2 linked regions of the Homo sapiens genome follow. The protein of the gene in region 1 interacts with the protein of each later gene in a pairwise test. Each region holds a gene or a part of one and is shown on either strand. Other genes may lie near its edges.

Region 1 (3,819 bases):
TATGTCTGTAAACCAGCTCCAGCCACCACTGCATATGTCTGTAAACCAGCTCCAGCCACCACTGCATATGTCTCTAAAATACTTGCAAGATTTTGGAAACTCAGAGGTGCTTGGGGCCACCCGTCTCGTCTAAGGCTGACCTGCCTAGGCTACAGGAGAAACAGAATTCAGGGTTCCCTAAGTTTTGGGTCCCAAAGTAAACAAAATGGCCTTGTGTATAAATGATACTTTTTACCATTATCAGCTGAGGATCTTTTAAAAATAAACCAATCAACTCTCTCTTAGCCCACCTCATTCCTGAGAACAAAAGGCCTGATTCTGATGGGAAGAACCACAACCCCCAGGGGACAATTTCCTTAGAGATCTGCCACTGTCCGGCAGGCCTTGCTCTCTCCAGCCTCTTCCCCGCAGCCTTGGGCCACCCCGGCACTGCAGTCCTGCTTTGGATCGCTGGGACAATGCGCTATTTGTTAAGATTCTGTCTGCGCTCTTCAAAACACTCTCTCATGAAAAGGATCATACAATGAGCAAAGAGCAGCCAGGGCAGGGTGGGGCAGGATGAAGAGAAAGAATGAACAAAACACCAGTAACACTCAGCAAGCACTTACTGAGCACCTACTGTGTGCAGGCCCCAGCTAACCCACTGCTGAGCTGCCCGGCTGGCTTCGCACAGCCAGCCCCTTCTCCTCTCCCCATGCTGGGTTAATGTTTGCTTAGTAGACAAGGTGCTTTGATCTCTGCCTGGAGTTTCAGTTACTGTAAAGAACACAGTGCCAAGGAGGGCTGGGGACAAGGCTCCCAGACTCTGCCAGTCCAGCTGCTGCAGGATAAGCCTATGCCGACTGCAAATACACTGAGACAGGAGTCGAGCCTGGGGCCATCCTAAAAACATGACTTCATGTGTTGATTTTCACTGTTGTCAGTGGATTCTCACTGGAAGCGCCCCAAGAACAGAGCACTAATCTGCCATTTTAGGTGACGGCAAGAGGACAGAGACTGGGTGATACATTGATCAGAGGTCCTGCTGTGGGCCCCAGATGCCAGTGCAGCCCAAGAGCAGGAGACGAGGTGCTTCTCTTTGCCCAGCACCTTCCTTTGGTCTCCTGACTCCTCAAGCAAAGGTGAAACCCAGATATGGCTGGAATTCAAGTCTCCTCTAACTTCCTCCTTCTTCCCAGCCCTGGAATAGGTGAAAGTGCCAAGGCTGAGGTTGCAGAAGCTGGTGGAGAGTGGAATCAGCTGGGGGGAGCTGGTCCTATCTCACAAGCAGCAACAACAAAAGCAAGGAGGGCCTTGGCAGGCGCTAGGCACATAAACAAGCAGGGTTAACTTCTTCCCTGGGCTGGAGAGAACCTATCTGTGCTTGTGACAGAGAGACAAAGAGTGCCCTTTGGCATTTGCCAGGAAAGCCTTTGGAAAAACAGGGTGTGACCCTGTTGCCACAGCAACCCAGCCACACTCTGGGGCTCACATGGTGTACAGTGTAAGAGGAGGGGCCGGGCGCGGTGGCTCACACCTGTAATCCCAGCACTTTGGGAGGCCGAGGCGGGCGGATCACAAGGTCAGGAGATCGAGATCATCCTGGCTAAAACAGTGAAACCCCATCCCTACTAAAAATACAAAAATTTAGCCAAGTGTGGTGGTGGGCGCCTGTAGTCCCAGCTACTCGGGAGGCTGAGGCAGGAGAATGGTGTGAACCCAGGAGGCGGAGCTTACAGTGAGCCGAGATTGCACCACTGCACTCCAGCCCCTCCAGCCTGGGTGACAAAGCCAGACCCCGTCTCCAAAAAAAAAAAAAAAAAAAGAGGAGGGGAGCCCCTCCTCAGTCCAGGGCTTGAAACAAGATAATTCCTAGGAAGTAACTGGCAAATAAAGGAACACATTCGGGAAAACTAGATAGAAGTGTACAACACAGAGTTTGGAAGCAATCTTTCAGTGGTCCTCTCCCTTCTGAGTCCTGGAATGAATCTAATGTGGAAGACTTGAACCCCACATTTCTGTTTCTTTTCTTTTTTTTTTTTTTAATTGAGATGGAGTCTCGCTATGTCGCCCAGACTGGAGTGCAATGGTGTTATCTCGGCTCACTGCAACCTCCACCTGCCAGGTTCAAGCAGTTCTCTTGCCTCAGCCTCCCGGGTAGCTTGGACTATAGGCAAGTACCACCATGCCTGGCTAATTTTTTTTTTTTTTTTGGATTTTTAGTAGAAATGGGGTTTCACCACGCTGGCCAGGCTGCTTTTGAACTCCCAACCTCGTGATCTGCCCGCCTCAGCCTCCCCAAGTGCTGGGATGACAGGCATGAGCCACTGCGACCAGCTGAGCCCCACATTTCTTGTAAGCAGACAGAGCCTCAAGCCAGTAAAGCGATGTGTCCACAGTCTCTTGGAAGCAGCGCTGGGTCTGTGGCTGCTGCCTGGGTCTGATGGGTGTGTTCTCAGAGGCAGCCGCACTTAGGACTTGAGAAGCCAGCTGTCAGCGTGACTTGCCCTGGTGCGTGCCCAAGTCAGAAAACACCCAGAGTACCCACAGCTGCCAGGGAGGGATCTGTGCAGGAACAGCTAGTTGGACGGGCTTATGGGATGGCAGGGAGTGAGCGAGCTGGGGGGCCCCAGGGGACGGTGGAGTATCTCCAGCTCCTGAGTGACAGAGAGAACCCACGTGCACTGCCACACCAGCACCACTGCTCCAGGCTCAGCCGTGGGCATCTGCGAGGCCCTGGAGGGCACAGACAGGGTGTGCATGCTCGGCTCTGTCAAGGGGCTGCAGTGCTGCAGATGCCTGTGGTTTGGCTTCTCTGCTCTCCTGCTTGTTCTCTAAAAGCTGGGGCTGTCTACATGCATGGACACACTTCCCATACCTGGTAAGCAACCTGAGTCCTGACACCAGAGTGGACAAAAGCTTAGGTAGAGGGGCTGACAGGCACTGCATCATGAATGGAAGCCACTGTCCTTCAACTAATTACGTCTTCAGTAAGAGGAACTAAACTAGCTACTCGTCAATGAGGAATGGTGAGTAATCAAAACGATGCCGCTTAAAGATCCATTTGTGTCCTCATGGGTGAATCAGTAAACAAACTGTGGTGTATCCCTACAGTGAAATATTACTTGGCTACAAAAAGAAACTCTGGACATGCCCAACTACATGGATGAGTCTTGCAAGCACCGTGCTGAGTGAAAGAAGCCAGACAAAAACACTAGTTCCCTTTCTATCCCTGGTTCTTAACTAGGGGTGATTCTGCCCCAAGGGGACATTTGGCAATGTCTGGAGACATTGATCACTGTCACATCTGGGGAAGGGAGAGTGCCTCTGGCACGTAGTGGGTAGAGACCAAGGACACTGCTAAACACCCTGCAAAGCACAGGACAGCCCCACAACAAAGACTCATCCAGCCCTAAGTGTCAGTAGGGCCAGGGTGGGGAGATCCTGATTTATAGGAAATTCTAAAGAAAGGCAAAGCTATAGTGAGGAGAGTGTAGATCACAGCTTGCCTGAGGCTGAGGGAGGGAATCACCTGTAACACGGTCGGGGCACAAGGGAACATTTCGGAGTGATGGGTGCGTTCTGTATCACAATTGTGGTGGGGCTAACACAACTATACACATTTGTCAAAATTCATAAAATGGCACACGTAAAATTGGCAAGTCTTACTCTATGTAAATTATACCTCAATAAAGCTATTTCCAAAAAGTGGCACAGGGAGAAAAAGTGACAAGTTGGCTCTGGAAGCAACTGGGGGCTGAGATGGCTGATGCCCACACACATTCCACTGCCTGCCCAGCACTACTAGCAAGAGCAAGGGCATCTCTGCGTTGGCACGTG
Region 2 (3,819 bases), on another chromosome or scaffold:
TATTTGCAAACTATGCCTCTGACAAAAGACTAATATCGAGATCTGCAAGGTACTCAAACAACTCAACAGGTAAACAAACAAACAAACAAACCTATTAAAAGGTGGGCAAAGGATATGAACACGCATTTTACAAAAGAAGACATACAAGCAGCCAACAAACATGGAAAAATGCTCAATATCACTAATCATCAGAAAAATGCAAATTAAAACCACAATGAAATATGATTTTATATCAGTCAGGAGGGCTTTTATTAAAAAGTTAGAAAATAACAGATGTTGGCATGGATGTGGGAGAAAACAGGTACACTTATACACTGTTAATGGGAATGTAAATTAGTACAACCTTTATGAAAAACCATATGAAGATTTCTCAAAGAACTAATAATCAAAAAAATTTGACCCAGCAATCCCACTAATAGGTATGTACCTAAAGGAAAATAAATCATTATATAAAAAGGACACCTGCACTTGTATGTCTATCACAGCACTGTTCACAATAGCAAAGTCATGGAATCAATCTAAGTGTCCATCAATGGTTAATTGGATAAAGAAAATAGGTATATAGACACCATGGAATACTATGCAGCCATAAGAAAGAATAAAATCATTATCTTTGCAGCAACATGGATGGAGGTGGAGATTATTATCCTATGTGAAATAACTCAGAAAATCAAATATCCCATGTTCTCACTTATAAGTGGGAGCTACACAATGGATACACATGGACATACAGATGGAAATAATAGACACCGAGGACTCCAAAAGGGGAGAAGTTAAAAGGGAATTGAGGGTTGAAAAATTACCTACTGGTCACTGTTTGGTTGATGGGTACATTAGAAATCCAAACCCACCATTATGCAATACATCCACGGAAAAAACCCACAAATGCACCCCCAGATCTAAATTATTTTTTTAAGAAAAAGAAAAATAAATATGTATGTAAATATTCCACTGATTTGTTATTTAGATTAAAAGCAATAAATCTTTAATATCCTGTGTTGGTCATATGAAGTTATTCAATAACAAGCTTTCTACTTAACTTACATCCCAGTCAATATTTGCAAAAAACAGATGTCTTTTGATTTCTTCAACTCCTTCTGATCCTATAAAAAAAAGAAATGATATTTTATTTTTATGATTTTTTTTAGTCTTGCTCCCTGGCTTCCAGACTGCTATCTGTAAACAGGAATACACATATTTCATACATTCCTTGAAAAGAAAAATACATGATTTCTTATCTGGCATTTTATTAGCTGGTCCTTTCATTTTACTGTGATAAAAAATAACTAACATTCATATTGAACTACAATAAAGTGTCTCCCAAATCAAATCAAATAGTATTAAACATAATACTTAAACTTAAATACATATTTTTTCATTCCTAATTTATCTTATGACCTCATATTTATATGCCAAATTGAAAGGTACAAAGGAATAAAGTGACACTGAAATTTTCACACAAGGGCATAAATAATAGGATCGCATCTGGATACAGGGAAAGGCTACCAGAAAGGGGTCAAAAAAGTAGTTACAGAAACATAATATTTACTTTGAAGAATATTGGGGGGGGGCAAAATATCTATCTTCAAATATATAAAAGATTACCTGTACAAGGGAGAATCTGTTTATTATTTCAAAAGAAGTAACCCATAATATATACATAATAATAGGTTGAACAGAAGCTTTCATTAACTAGACTACTTCAGTTTTAAATCATGGACATAACAGAGTTTACTTTGTCTGAAATGCACACACAAAATGAAAAATTCTACGTATAGAAGTAATGTGCTCAAATCAAACAAGAAAACATAAAGATTTAATTATCCTCCCAAAACATGCAGTTACTTCTATAAAAGCTAAGAAAATAAGCAATACCCAATCTATTTGCTGGATTCCTTTTGAATAACATCCTTAGAAGACTTTGTGCTTCAGCACTAAGAAATTGAGGCATTCCAAGTTTTGCTCTGAAACAGAGGATTTTAGAAAGTTTCACTTAAATTTAGCCACATTTTTGATTTGAAAAATCTCAAAAAGAACTTTTAAAAGTGCTTTTACAAGGGTACAGTCCTGTATATGGTAGAAGGGAACAAGACAGTGAGAAAAAGGTACTCTTGTATTATTTTAAAACCGCAATAATTTTTTCAAAACTGAAAGCAAGAGATTTTTTTCCCAAAAGAAAAACATACTGTTTACACTTACTTTAATATCATATTCATGGTCTCATTTCTGTCTTTACCTTGAAATGGCAGAGTACCAGTAAGCATTTCAAACTAAAACAAACAAACAAAACACACCACACAATTAGAACACCTTAGAATATATAATAAGATTCTCTAGAAAAAAACTGAGACTTCTATATAATCATCAAATTGTAAGATCTACATGATAGTAGATCAAAATGGGACCAGAAAACTAGGTCACTTAAAGAAATATACTTCTGGTATCCCACTCTCTCTCTCTATATATATAGCTCAACTGATGGTGACCTGTAGCAGATGAAACCAACCAATTCTTCCTCAGTTCTAATTCGGCTATGTTCTCAAAGCCAAAGCAATTTGAAAATACACACAATGCATTTTCTGTTAAAACAAATATACTCTTTTGAAGAGAATGTTTAATAATAAAGGAAAAGGAAAAATAAGCAGAAAAGCATTTCAAATTCATACATGCCCAAGAAAGATTTAACCATTCTCATTCCCTCCACTGCCCCCAAAACAGGAGCCAAAAAAGAAGTAGAAGCAGCAGAACACACCACCACCACCACCCCCTGCCACACACACACATGCCAATAGCTTTAAAAAAGAAACATACACCTTAGTTGTACACAGAAGAAGGAAAACATTTTCTCAAAGAGAACTGACTGCAATGTGACTAACTAGAACATTAAATAATGGTATAAAAAAAGACTACCTCTAAAAATCATTACGGTACATTAAAGAGAAGTTTTTGTATCACCAGTATTTAAATCTCAAACTTAGATTCAATAATGGCTTTGGCCTTAGTCTTCTACTCATTTATCTGAACTCACAATCTAAGTGAGCTTATACATTCAAGTCTCTTCTGTATCTTAATGTCTCCCAAAATCTGCTGTTCAAGGCTTAATCTCTCTCAAACTCCAGCTTTCCTTCCCAAATCTTAAGTAATGGTACGCCACCAAAGACTGGAGGAGTAGAGGTGAGAACTTCAGGGAGAGAATGAAGGAAGGATCGTATATAGGACTCACATCTTCCCTCAAAGAAACTACACGTTGGGTAGTTAATATATACGTATTAAGGTCTCCAAATGATTCTGATTCTCTCTCCACTACCCCTCCTAGTTTATCACCACCCAGTGGTGAGTCATTAACCTACAGTAACCTATGCTACATGTTAAAAATTATTTTTTCCCACTTCCAAAACCAGCTGTCCTCTTCAGCTATCTCTTCTATTAACTTACCATTCTTTGAACCCCCTAAAGCTCACAAATTTTATAGGCATTTTTATCTTTGACAATTCATTTCTTTTTGATCTGTGTCATCTAATTTGCTACCAAGGTTAACAACTGCTTACTTTGAAATCTCTATAATCTTACAATTGTCTTTAAAGATCTCTTTTGTCTTCCTATTTCTAGTTTCTTCCATTACAATCCACTTACAAGGCTAATCCTCCTAAAATACAATTTTCTCTAATTTCCAGCCTGTTTAAGAATCTAAAAGTTTCCTCCTACCCAGAGAATCATGTATAAATGCTTATAGGTTTATAGCTTCACTTCCTCCACCTTTGCCCTCTTTCTCCACTTCTCTAGTCAAACTGGTTCTCCAAGTCTTTGCTAATATGATCA

What was found.
Region 2: the proteins of SAP30BP (region 1) and RPS6KA6 interact in a two-hybrid assay, tested with the Homo sapiens proteins (one large-scale study listed by BioGRID and IntAct).

Annotation. Positions count from the first base shown.
Region 1 is NC_000017.11:75,694,752-75,698,570, reverse strand, and holds part of SAP30BP (SAP30-binding protein), read right to left. Parts: intron 1-3,819. UniProt on the Homo sapiens protein: Plays a role in transcriptional repression by promoting histone deacetylase activity, leading to deacetylation of histone H3.
Region 2 is NC_000023.11:84,115,185-84,119,003, forward strand, and holds part of RPS6KA6 (ribosomal protein S6 kinase alpha-6), read right to left. Parts: intron 2,271-3,819; coding exon 2,200-2,270; intron 1,965-2,199; coding exon 1,876-1,964; intron 1,104-1,875; coding exon 1,045-1,103; intron 1-1,044. UniProt on the Homo sapiens protein: Constitutively active serine/threonine-protein kinase that exhibits growth-factor-independent kinase activity and that may participate in p53/TP53-dependent cell growth arrest signaling and play an inhibitory role during embryogenesis.